Regions from separate parts of the Homo sapiens genome. Here region 2 is linked to region 1. The links come from fine-mapping of genetic effects on gene expression. A gene starts in region 1. The other region holds a variant in brackets. All regions are shown on one strand. Distances are between the middles of the regions.

Region 1 (5,383 bases):
CTGCCCCAGCCCTGGTTCCTTTTAGTGGAAAAAGGTATTTAGAAACTGAGATCTAAATGCTAGGATGCTCATTGCAACTGGGGTGTCATTGCTCCTGGACTAGGAAATATAACACATTCATACATTTCTACTTCTCAATTTACCTGTCTATCCCTACCTATCTATCATCTGTCACATTCCTATCTTTAAAATCCATAACTTCGGACTAATGCCTTCAATTCCAATCCAGTATCACATTTTCCCCTTTGCATATTTGTAACTCCTTTCTTCAACAGTGAGAAATTGCATTCCCAGTCTCCTTGATACGTTGACTCATTCACTTGATCCTCCTGCATGTAAGCAATCTCCCAGCTGGGCCAGCCTTGTCCCCTTAGCCCCAGTGCCACCCATCACACCATTTGAGTGTTCCAACTCCAAAAGAAGGGAAGGCGAAATAGGAAATTATTTTTGCTCTTCTCTTCCCTATTCCTTATGTGTATATTATTATTTTCCCTTTTGGATATTGCTCACATCCATTTTCTCCTCTTCAGCTTTACTTCTGTGACTAGAATTCAGGCTTGAACAGGTGCTTCTGGTTTTGTTCCTGGTAATCTGTCCTGCACATAGCAGCCCAGATGATCTTTCACAACAAGAATATGACTATGTTATTTCTCTTTAAAGTCTCCAATGGCTCGTCATTTTCTACAAGGTTAAGTAAGCTCTCTAACTTACCCTGACCTGGCCTCTGTCCATACCTCCATTCTCATATTCATGCCTTCCTCCCTTGGACTATCAGTAGAAGTGAATTTTTGTAGTTGTCTGCATATACCATGTTCCATCACTACCATTTCAGTATGATGCTCCCTTGATTTATGAACCTCTTTCCCCAGTGCACCCTTAGAAATCCTGCTCAGGTGTCACTGTATCTAAGAAGCTTTTTTTGACACTTCTTTCCAACCATTAGTTGTTAATTATCCATACTAATTGGATTTCTTATACATAGTTTTATTATTGCCTATGTCACTCTCCACTATATTTGTTTACATGTCTGTCTTCTCTACTAGGTAACCAATTCAGAGGACAGGAATTGATTTTTGCCATTATAGTTTCAGTATCTAGCACAGTTTCTGCCATGTGTTATACACTTAATAAATACTTATTGAGGCTGGGCGCGGTGGCTCACGCCTGTAATCCCAGCACTTTGGGAGGCCGAGGTGGGTGGATCATGAGGTCAGGAGTTCGAGACCAGCCTGACGAACAATGGTGAAACCCTGTCTCTACTAAGAAAAATACAAAAATTAGCTGGGCATGGTGGCACTCACCTGTAATCCCAGCTGCTCAGGAGGCTGAAGCAGGAGAATCGCTTGAACCCGGGAGGCGGAGGTGCAGTGAGCCCAGGTGGAGTGATGATCGCGCCTCATCACTCCAGCCTGGGCGACAGAGCAAGACTCTGTCTGAAACAAAACAAAACAAAACACAACAAAAACTTATTGAACTGAAACATATATGTATGTGTCTGTGTGTATTTCTTTTTCTTTTCTTTTTGCCTTGGAAGAATGTGGAGAAACATCTGAAAAAGGAGCTGTTTTAAGATACCCAGTTTGTGATCATTTATTATGGCAGCCAAAGCAAATAAATACAGCATCAAGCTTATCAGAATCCACTTGCATCATGCTTGCTAATATCCCCATTGTCAAAGCTAGTCACAAGGCTAAGCCTGCTGTCACCATGAGAGGGGACTATACAAGGGCGTGCATTCTGAGAGGTGTGGTTCATTGGAGAAATCAAAGTAACAGTGTGCAGTGAGATTTATTAGATCATTTCATGTATCATAATAAAAGACATTGAATTTCTGATGAAGGATTTCGAATGTGGTAAAATAATTCAGTGGGAACCCAACGCAGTACCTTGAAAGAGAGTTACCTTGGGTCAAGTACAATAATTGGCACTCAGACCTGACACTTCCTTTTCAATAGACTAAATTCACCATGCAGCAATTATTGGAGCTAACAAAGTGTAATCTGTATTGGAAGAGAGTTATTGAAACCAGTATTTAAAAACATTATAGCAGAACTCTTCAAATAAATTCTTATATTAACACAGAAACAAGTATGGCAGAATACTCACGGTTATTTTATTTAAAGTTGGGTTTTTCGAGTACCCTCTATTTTCATGTATTTTGGGAAATTTTAGTAATGAAAGCAAATAGTGAAACAGAATTAAATATCCATTTTATAAAATACGACAAACAAGAGGAGAGCGGCTCTGAATTCCACCCCTGTGGAATTCAGGACTGCCATAGAGCGTATTTTCAAAACTGTTGATTTTGACAAGGCTGACTAGGAGATGCCCTAGAAGCCCCAGGTATGTGTTTCAGTATGATTCTGGCAACGCTGACTTAAAGCACTAAGTAGAATCAGTAGCCTACAGTGGATACTGCCCCATAAGGAGTGACGGGGGAAACGTTGCTGATTAAATAAATGGTCTTTTGAATTGGGCTGATGGTAGATGCTATAACTGAAGTTGCAAACCACACTGGGTTCGTTTGCTAGGGCTGCTGTAATAAATGACCACAAGCTGGGTATCTTAAAACAGCAGAAAGTTACTCTCTCACAGTTCCGGAGGCCAGAGGTCTGAGATCCGGGTGCTGGTGTGTCCGGAATCGGTGGGTTCTTGGTCTCACCGACTTCAAGAATGAAGCCGCGGACCCTCGCGTGAGTGTTACAGTTCTTAAAGGCGGCGTGTCCGGAGTTTGTTCCTTCTGATGTTCAGATGTGTTTGGAGTTTCTTCCTTCTGGTGGGTTCGTGGTCTCGCTGGCTTCAGGAGTGAAGCTGCAGACCTTCGCGGTGAGTGTTACAGCTCATAAAGGCAGTGTGAACCCAAAGAGTGAGCAGTAGCAAGAGTTATTGCAAAGAGCGAAAGGACAAAGCCTCCACAGTGTGGAAGGGGACCCGAGCGCGTTGCCACTGCTGGCTCGGGCAGCCTGCTTATATTCTCTTATCTGGCCCAACCCACATCCTGCTGATTGGTAGAGCCAATGGTCTGTTTTGACAGGGCGCTGATTGGTGCGTTTACAATCCCTGAGCTAGACACAAAGGTTCTCCACGTCCCCACCAAACTAGCTAGATACCGAGTGTCCACACAAAGGTTCTCCAAGTCCCCACCAGAGTAGCAAGATACAGAGTGTCCATTGGTGCATTCACAAACCCTGAGCTAGACACAGGGTGCTGATTGGTGTGTTTACAAACCTTGAGCTAGATACAGAGTGCCCATTGGTGTATTTACAATCCCTGAGCTACACATAAAGGTTCTCCACGTCCCCACCAGACTCAGGAGCCCAGCTGGCTTCACCCAGTGGATCCCCCACCGGGGCTGCAGGTGGAGCTGCCTGCCAGTGCGGTGCCGTGTGCCTGCACTCCTCAGCCCTTGGGTGGTCGATGGGACTGGGCTCCGCGGAGCAGGGGGTGGCGCTTGTCGGGGAGACTCCGGCTGCACAGGAGCCCACGGAGGTGGGGGAGGCTCAGGCATGGCGGGCTGCAGGTCCCGAGCCCTGCCCCGCGGGAAGGCAGCTAAAGCCTGGCGAGAAATTGAGCACAGCAGCTGCTGGCCCAGGTGATAAGCCCTTCACTGCTCGGGCTGGTGGGGCCGGCCTGCCGCTCCGAGTGCTGGGTCCGCCGAGCCCACGCCCACCCGGAACTCGCGCTGGCCCGGAAGCACCGCGCGCAGCCCCTGTTCCCGCCCGCGCCTCTCCCTCCACACCTCCCTGCAAGCTGAGGGAGCCGGCTCCGGCCTTGGCCAGCCCAGCAAGGGGCTCCCACAGTGCAGCGGTGGGCTAAAGGGCTCCTCAAGTGCCGCCAAAGTGGGAGCCCAGGCAGAGGAGGCGCCGAGAGCGAGCAGGGCTGTGAGGACTGCCAGCACGCTGTCACCTCTCACTGGCAGGGTTAGGTTTTTCTGGGGGCTGTGAGAGAGAAACCAGTCTGTGCGTCTCTTTGGCATTCCTGGGCATCCCTCCAGGCTCCGCCTGTGCTGTCACACTGAGTTCCCCCTGTGTGTCTGCTTTCTCCTCTTATAAGTGATATAGGAGTTAAGAAGAAATTATTTAGGCAGATAGTGAGGGTAAGGAAGTCCTCAGTAAGGTTTTCCTTTTAATGAAAAGCAGCCCTCAAATCGTTTTCTTTTCTTACAATGAGCAGCCTGTAAAATCAAGCTGCAGACATAGACAAGCAAGCTAGAAGCTTGCACGGGTGAATGCCAGCAGCTGTGCCAATAGGAAAAGGCCACCTGGGACTAGGCATGTCCAACTTCGTATACTTGGTCATCATTTCCTACATTCTCACACAGAAGAGAGCACTCAAAAAATAGTTTTGAGAATCATTTGCTAATGATTTAATACTATTATAAGGGAATAAAAGACTTTTCTTTTAAATGAGTGCTTAAAGGCGATTGGAAGCCCTGCTAAAGTTCAGGGGTGAATGCCTTATTATTTTTTTATATTTGGGGGCAAGGGCTTTCCAGTGAAGACTGGAAAACCTGCTAGACAGATTCTAAAAGAGCTGTAACACTGGGTGAATGCTGTAGAAGCACATAGTGTTAGTAAGGTGTGGGTCAGATACGGCTTTAGAGAATGTAGCAACTGAAAGCCCAGATGGGAAGCTCCGTAGGCAGCTGGATAAGCTAATATTTCTAAATAATATGTTCAGAGATTCGGACTGAATGCAATTGCAACCTTCTCCACCAGTCAGCAGTGAGTTCTGAAGTTACAGAAGTGTGATGAATTGCGGTCAATATGGGTTCTACCTTCACTTTGGAGTCAGTCAGTGACCTTAAAATACCTGCCCAGCTGAATTTTCTTAGAGTGCTTCATTTCCTGTGGGCCCTTTTACTCCAAATTCCAGATGATGGCTTTTAGTCTGTGGGGCCGCTTTAAGAGGCAGAAATCTGATCAGAACTACTAGAAGGCTGTGAAGGTGCTGCTGTGTGGACAGGCAGGGCAGAGTGCTCAAGGCTTTCCAATGCTCCTGCAATGGATCCTCCCTACCCAGCCCACAACCTGGCAGCTCAGGGGCCAACTGTTCTCTGTTGCTTTCTACTATCATGAACACAGGAAATGGGGGTGGGTAGCTTCTGGTTTCTGATTGAGGGAGTAGAAAGTGATGCTGCAGGGATCAAAAGCAGAGAAGCTTTTAAGCCATTTGAGAAACTGTGTCCGAAGGCAAGCGGATTTTAGCAGTAGCAGCAGCAGACCCCAGAAAAATTTGAAGAAGCATTAGTTTGTGCACTGTTAATGCCACTCTCTCATGAATGAAGAGAAGAAGGCAGGCCTAATGAAGGCTTTCCTAATGAAGGCTGAAGGCAGGCCGCTATTTGCCAAAGGTGCTGAGTGGCAGGGGGAGGAAGGGAAGG
Region 2 (5,383 bases), 120 kb after region 1:
GGAAGAAGTATAAAGGGGAGTCTTGGACTTTTTCTTCCAGTCTGACCAATACACATTTAGAGGCACAATATTGAATGCTCCTTCCTAAACCGAACCCTTGAAAAGAGGGTGGGTGGGGGGCTTTGAGCACCCTCCCAGGCAGCAGTTAGTCCACTGGACTTTCCAGCGGGTGGCAGAAGAGAGGCTTGTGGTGAGACCACGTTTGATGTGGTCTGCCACATTATGTTCCATGTTTCCCCAGAAAAAGATCTACCTAAGAGTGAAAATTCTCACTGGAAAGTACTTGCGCTGTTCTTTTCTTTTTGGCTCCTGTAGAATCAACCACTGACCTACCAGAATCCACCATGGACCTGGAGTCACCCACAGATGTGTACCTGGAGAACACCCAGGCTTTCCGTGAGTGAGGGTCTGGCTTCGCAGGAGGCCTGGGCAGGGGATGGGCTCCCATCTTTTGCATTCCTGAGGGAAGGCCTGCTTTCCTCCAGCAGACTGGATTCCTACCATAGATTTTTCTTGAGAAGGATTCGAGGACAGACTCAAGAAGTGGACTCTGGTACTCTGCCCCCATTATATGCCTTTCTCACCTGGGCGTCATGTTTGCTAGCACATGAGGATAGGTCTAGTTCACCTGCTACACTTAGGAACTTCTAAGTGTGAGTGAAGGCCATGCCTTTAACCCAGTCCTTCTCATGGAATGCATTTGCATTCCATTTCCATAGTAGGATTTGAGTCCTGGTGGAGTACCTTGAAGATTAGGAGAAAGAGGGTTTTGGTGCCACAGACTCAGTGGAATCCTACATTTACTAACACTATTGGAGGCTCATAACAGAATGGTAGACATGTGGTGAATGAGTCTTACTGACCATGAATAAGAAACATTTCTTTACTTAATTGAAGACCAGCCCAGCACCTTCAGAGAAGACTCTTGGAGTTCACCTCAGTGAAGTTTTGTAAGATTCTCCTCTTTTACCTTTAATACTTTACTGATGATTTGATACCATTTTCAATGCTAGTTTAAATTCACTGGTAAAAATTCCAAACTTAAAACTTCCCAGATGCTGAGATCAACTACAAAATGTAACATGGAGGTTAAAGACAATCTCTTTCCTCCCTGGAGGAAAGAGAGCCCAGTTATTTGGATTTTCAGTAACTAAATAGGGATAAGATTAACAAGGACTCTTTCCTTCAAAAGAGTTTTGAAGGGAACATGGAGTAAAATGGATGCCTGGACAGTGTGTAAATATCTCACATTAGGGAGAAGACAAGGGAGGGAGGATAAAAAATTACACCCTAAAGAAATTAAGTTTCATGCCCAGGGAAAGGGTGAAAAGATGGGGCTGATCTTTTGAGCCCTGGTTCTCTTGTTTCTCTTGATAACTCCCGTTTTTTGTTTGTTTTTGTTTTCAAATTTAGAAAATGAAGCAAATTCTCCATTAGCTGTGATGATCACTGCTATCCACTACTTTCTAAGAAGATTCTATGCTTTTGAGCATGCCTACCACTACACTATAGGAGATCTATTGTAGAAGACTAGAAAAACATAGGATGTGCCCAGCTGAGGCATTGATCCTGGCTGGGTAGGGGGAATTGTTCAGGGATGGGGAAGGGGCACTTCTTAGCTGTGTCTCATCGAGTACGGGCTCAATAAATAATTGAATTTTGAGAGTGGTTCTTATTTTATGAGAGAAGAATTGCTTAATTGTATTAAGACCTATGATAAATTTATTTCTCTCTGATACTTTATAAACAGGCATCAATACTTTACAGGGGCCACAGGAAAACATGAAATGAGTTTGTGGGAAGTAAGTTAGTTTTTCTATTGCTGTGATAATAGATTACCACAAACTTAGTGGCTTAAATGAGCACGAATTTATTAACTTAGTTTTGTGGTTCACATGTCTGAAATGAGTCTCACAGGATTAGATCCTTGTATCAATGCTGAGCTGCATTCTAGAAGCTTTAGAGAAGAATTCCATTTTTTCATTCATATTCCTTGACCTCTTTCCAGCAATGGCCAGATGAGCCTCCCGTCACATCACATTGTCTGGTACTGACTCGTCTGCCTCCATCTTCCACATTTAAGGACCTTTTAATTAATTACATTGGGTCCATCTGGATAATCCAGGATAATTTCTCTATGTTAAAGTCAGTTGATTGGCAAATGTAATTCCTCTTCCCATATAATTCAACATATTCAGTGGTTCTGGGAATTAGTTGTGTGTCTTTGAGAGGCCATTATTCTTCATAGCACACACAAGGTAGACATCTTAATCCTCTAGAACTGGTTTGGTTCAAGTAGTGGGTAGACACAGCTTTTTTTTTTTTAGGTTTATACACTAGATTTTTGCAAAAGGGTATGAGTTGGTATCGCACATATTCATACTTTGCAGTACGTATATGCGAACATGTAAATGAAAAACTAAAATGGCAGAAATTTTGTTTGAATTTGCCTGCATTTATAAATTGGGAGTGATGAATTTTTAGAGTAGGATGTGGACTCGGGAGTGGGGAGGAATGCTTTCTAATTGTAGTCTCTCATTGTGGTCACTTATGAACTCCACCTTCCTCTTAGAAAATGAGGCAGTTATACCAATTCGATTTGAAAGTTTTTTTTTGTTCTTTAATATATATCCTCAAATAAATACACCGATGTTTGCAATCATTAACTTTCAGAGTTATTAATTTATTAGCTTGTCTCAGGTAGAAATATTCTATGTTCACTGGTGGTTTTTATATAATATGCAATAAGTCCTTCACTCTTATGATGAACTCGCACCAGAGCACATCAGATTTTGGGATTCTTTATCTTGGTTCCATCAAGCCCCTTGTCTCAGGCTTCTAAATAGAAAGTAGTTCCAAGCCCTCCCCGATCTCTTTTAAAACTAAAATACGATCTCTCTCCCACTAGTCACTAGTTTTTCTTTTCCTCTTCCCATTTTATTTTTAATTTTCAGAAGATTTCAGCATGGAGTTTTGTAATGGACCCTTAGGACAACTTACACATGTACCCAGGGAAGAAGGCTAGTGGACTCATCATAGGCACTCATTGGTATCTACTCAGGATAAAAAGATGTTTTATTTCAAGTTCTAACAGATCAATTAAAAGCAGCTGCCCAGGGAATAATGATTTGGGTGCCTAACCAGGAGAGTTGTGGCACTTGTGCCATGCAAGTAGCTGACCCTGGTATAAGTGATAGTTGAAA[C/T]CATGGGCTTAGATGAGGCCACTTAGGAATAGTGCAGGTATAAGGAGGGGCAAAACTCTGAGGCACTGGTGTGGGAAGTTGACACCTGGAGCAAGCAAGTGACAAGGAGTCCCACCCAGTGGCTGTCCTCACAATAGTAGCTCTCATTGAAGGCTACTCTGTGCCAGGCAGGGACAGAGCTGAGAGCTTTGCATGGGTTTTTATGATATGCAAATGTTTTACACAGTATTTGTATAAAATATTAATAATATTTAATATAAAATTTGTATAGTTTATATACCAATATAAATTATTGAGTAAATTTTGATAATGGTACAGGCTAGTCTGTTTCTGTAATCCCAAAACCTCTTAATTTTCAAGCATTTAGTTTACATCACTTACATTTAACATAATTATTAATATATTGAGTAATAAGTCTGTCATTTTACTCTAGGTTTTGTGCTTATCTTGTGTTTTTTCTCTGTTTTCTATGTGCTACCTTCCTGTGTGTTACTTGAATATTTTGTTTTGAATTCCATTTTGGCTTATATGTAGTATTTTTGAGTGCGTTTGTACAGTTATTTATTTTTTTACTGATACTGTAGGTTTCACATTACATATATATATGACATCTTTTATATAAGTTATGTATCTTATAACCATCATTTTAGCTTAAAGTCTAAGGCAGTGCTATCTAATATAAATTTCTGTGATGATACATGTGTTGTATATCTACTATTCCACAGATATGGCTGCTTTTAAATGTAAAATTTTATATTTTATTTATATTTTATATTTTTAACATTTTTAATTTTAATTAATTAAATGTAAGCAGCTACATGTGACTTGCAGCTACCATATCGGACAGTAGAGATAGAGACAAGTGGATGGAGATGAGACATATTTAGAAAATTAGAACAGGAGAGAGAAACTGGTGGTAGACTTTTTATGTGGAATGAGACACAGTCAAAGCTATAGATTTTATGTTGCATGAATGGTTGGACAATGTTCACTAGAGTTGGGATTACCAGATCTAGTTTTGTTTTGGAAATACTGAGTGGCAACTTTAAAATATTCAAATGGGGATGTCAAATAGATAAAGGCGTGAAGCTCAGAGTAGGAGTCTTGGCAAGAGATTTAACTTTGTGCCTTTGGTACATAGATAATAATTAAAGCTGTTGGCAAGGATGACTTTTTCTAGGGAGATGATATTATATATAGTGACAAGAGGCAAGAGACAAAAAATAGAGGAATTTCATAATTTCACAGCTAGATGGAAACAGATGCATCTGCAAAGGACACACAAGGTGTCAGCTCCTGAATGGTGGGGACCATGATTTTGTATTCATCATTGCATTCTAAACTCCTAGCAAAATTCCTGGCATACAGAAGGCACTCAATATATATTTGATAAATGAAAGAAGTAATGAGTGGAGCAACCAGAGAGTTCAACGTAAAACAAATGCATATAAGTATCATGGAATCAAAGGAAGAGAATATTTTAAGTAAGACAGATTACAAACGATGCCCATCACTGCTGAGAAAGTTAAGATGAAGACTGAAAAAGTCCATTGATTTTAGCAAGCTGGAGGTCACTGGTACCGTGATGTCAGCTGTTTAAGTGGAATGATGGAAACAGAAGACTTGTTTTATAAGCTTCTGTCAGACTTTTTGTTAGATTCCTTAGCATATTGGCAAATTGCTTTCCTAAATTATAACTGAGGGTGACATAGTTTCAGTAGTAAAGGCATTTCTTAACTCTTTCTTCTCAAAGACCATCCCCACACAATAATATCAGGAAACAAGAAAGCAAATTTCATCTTTGATAAATCTTATAGGGCAAATATAAGCAACAATATATGAAGACTAAGTACAGGCAGAGCCATAGTTCCTGGCATAGTGGAAAGGAAGAGGGTTGTATTCAAGCACCTGTGAAGTTCTTGTTATTGGAAAGTGGCACCAAATAAATGTATGTTAATTGGTCTCATAGCACCCTTGTAAGACTGCAGGGCTGCGGACAGCAGGACCTCTGAGGATTATGTTGTAGGAGGGAAGGTGATGGTGAGACAGGTGGCAGGAAACTGTTGGGGTTCACATCCCCCTTTGTTCCAGCAAGAGGGAGTAGGTTTATTTAGAAAAACTGAACCAGAGAGGCAATGGACTTGGGGACAACTTGGCGTTACTAAAGAGGGCATGAGTGA

The links. PIP is the estimated chance that this variant, and not a neighbour inherited with it, causes the effect.
Region 2: its variant is the best candidate, but not a certain one, in a credible set for the expression of LINC01252 in pancreas (GTEx, PIP 0.51).

Annotation. Positions count from the first base shown.
Region 1 is chr12:11,545,640-11,551,022 of GRCh38, reverse strand. It overlaps LINC01252 (long intergenic non-protein coding RNA 1252), which reads right to left and starts at 2,993. Exons shown (of 8, transcript NR_033890.1): 1 at 2,663-2,993; 2 at 1,302-1,433. The region is part of intron 2 of LOC124902877 (a long non-coding RNA gene); the gene reads left to right. It also overlaps the pseudogene RNU7-60P.
Region 2 is chr12:11,426,495-11,431,877 of GRCh38, reverse strand. It overlaps LOC440084 (a long non-coding RNA gene), which reads left to right. Exons shown (of 5, transcript NR_148969.1): 4 at 316-396; 5 at 1,414-1,668. Among named protein-coding and RNA genes, the nearest start is that of PRB2, 34 kb to the right of the region's middle. The variant C/T (reference allele first, on the strand shown) is at 3,204.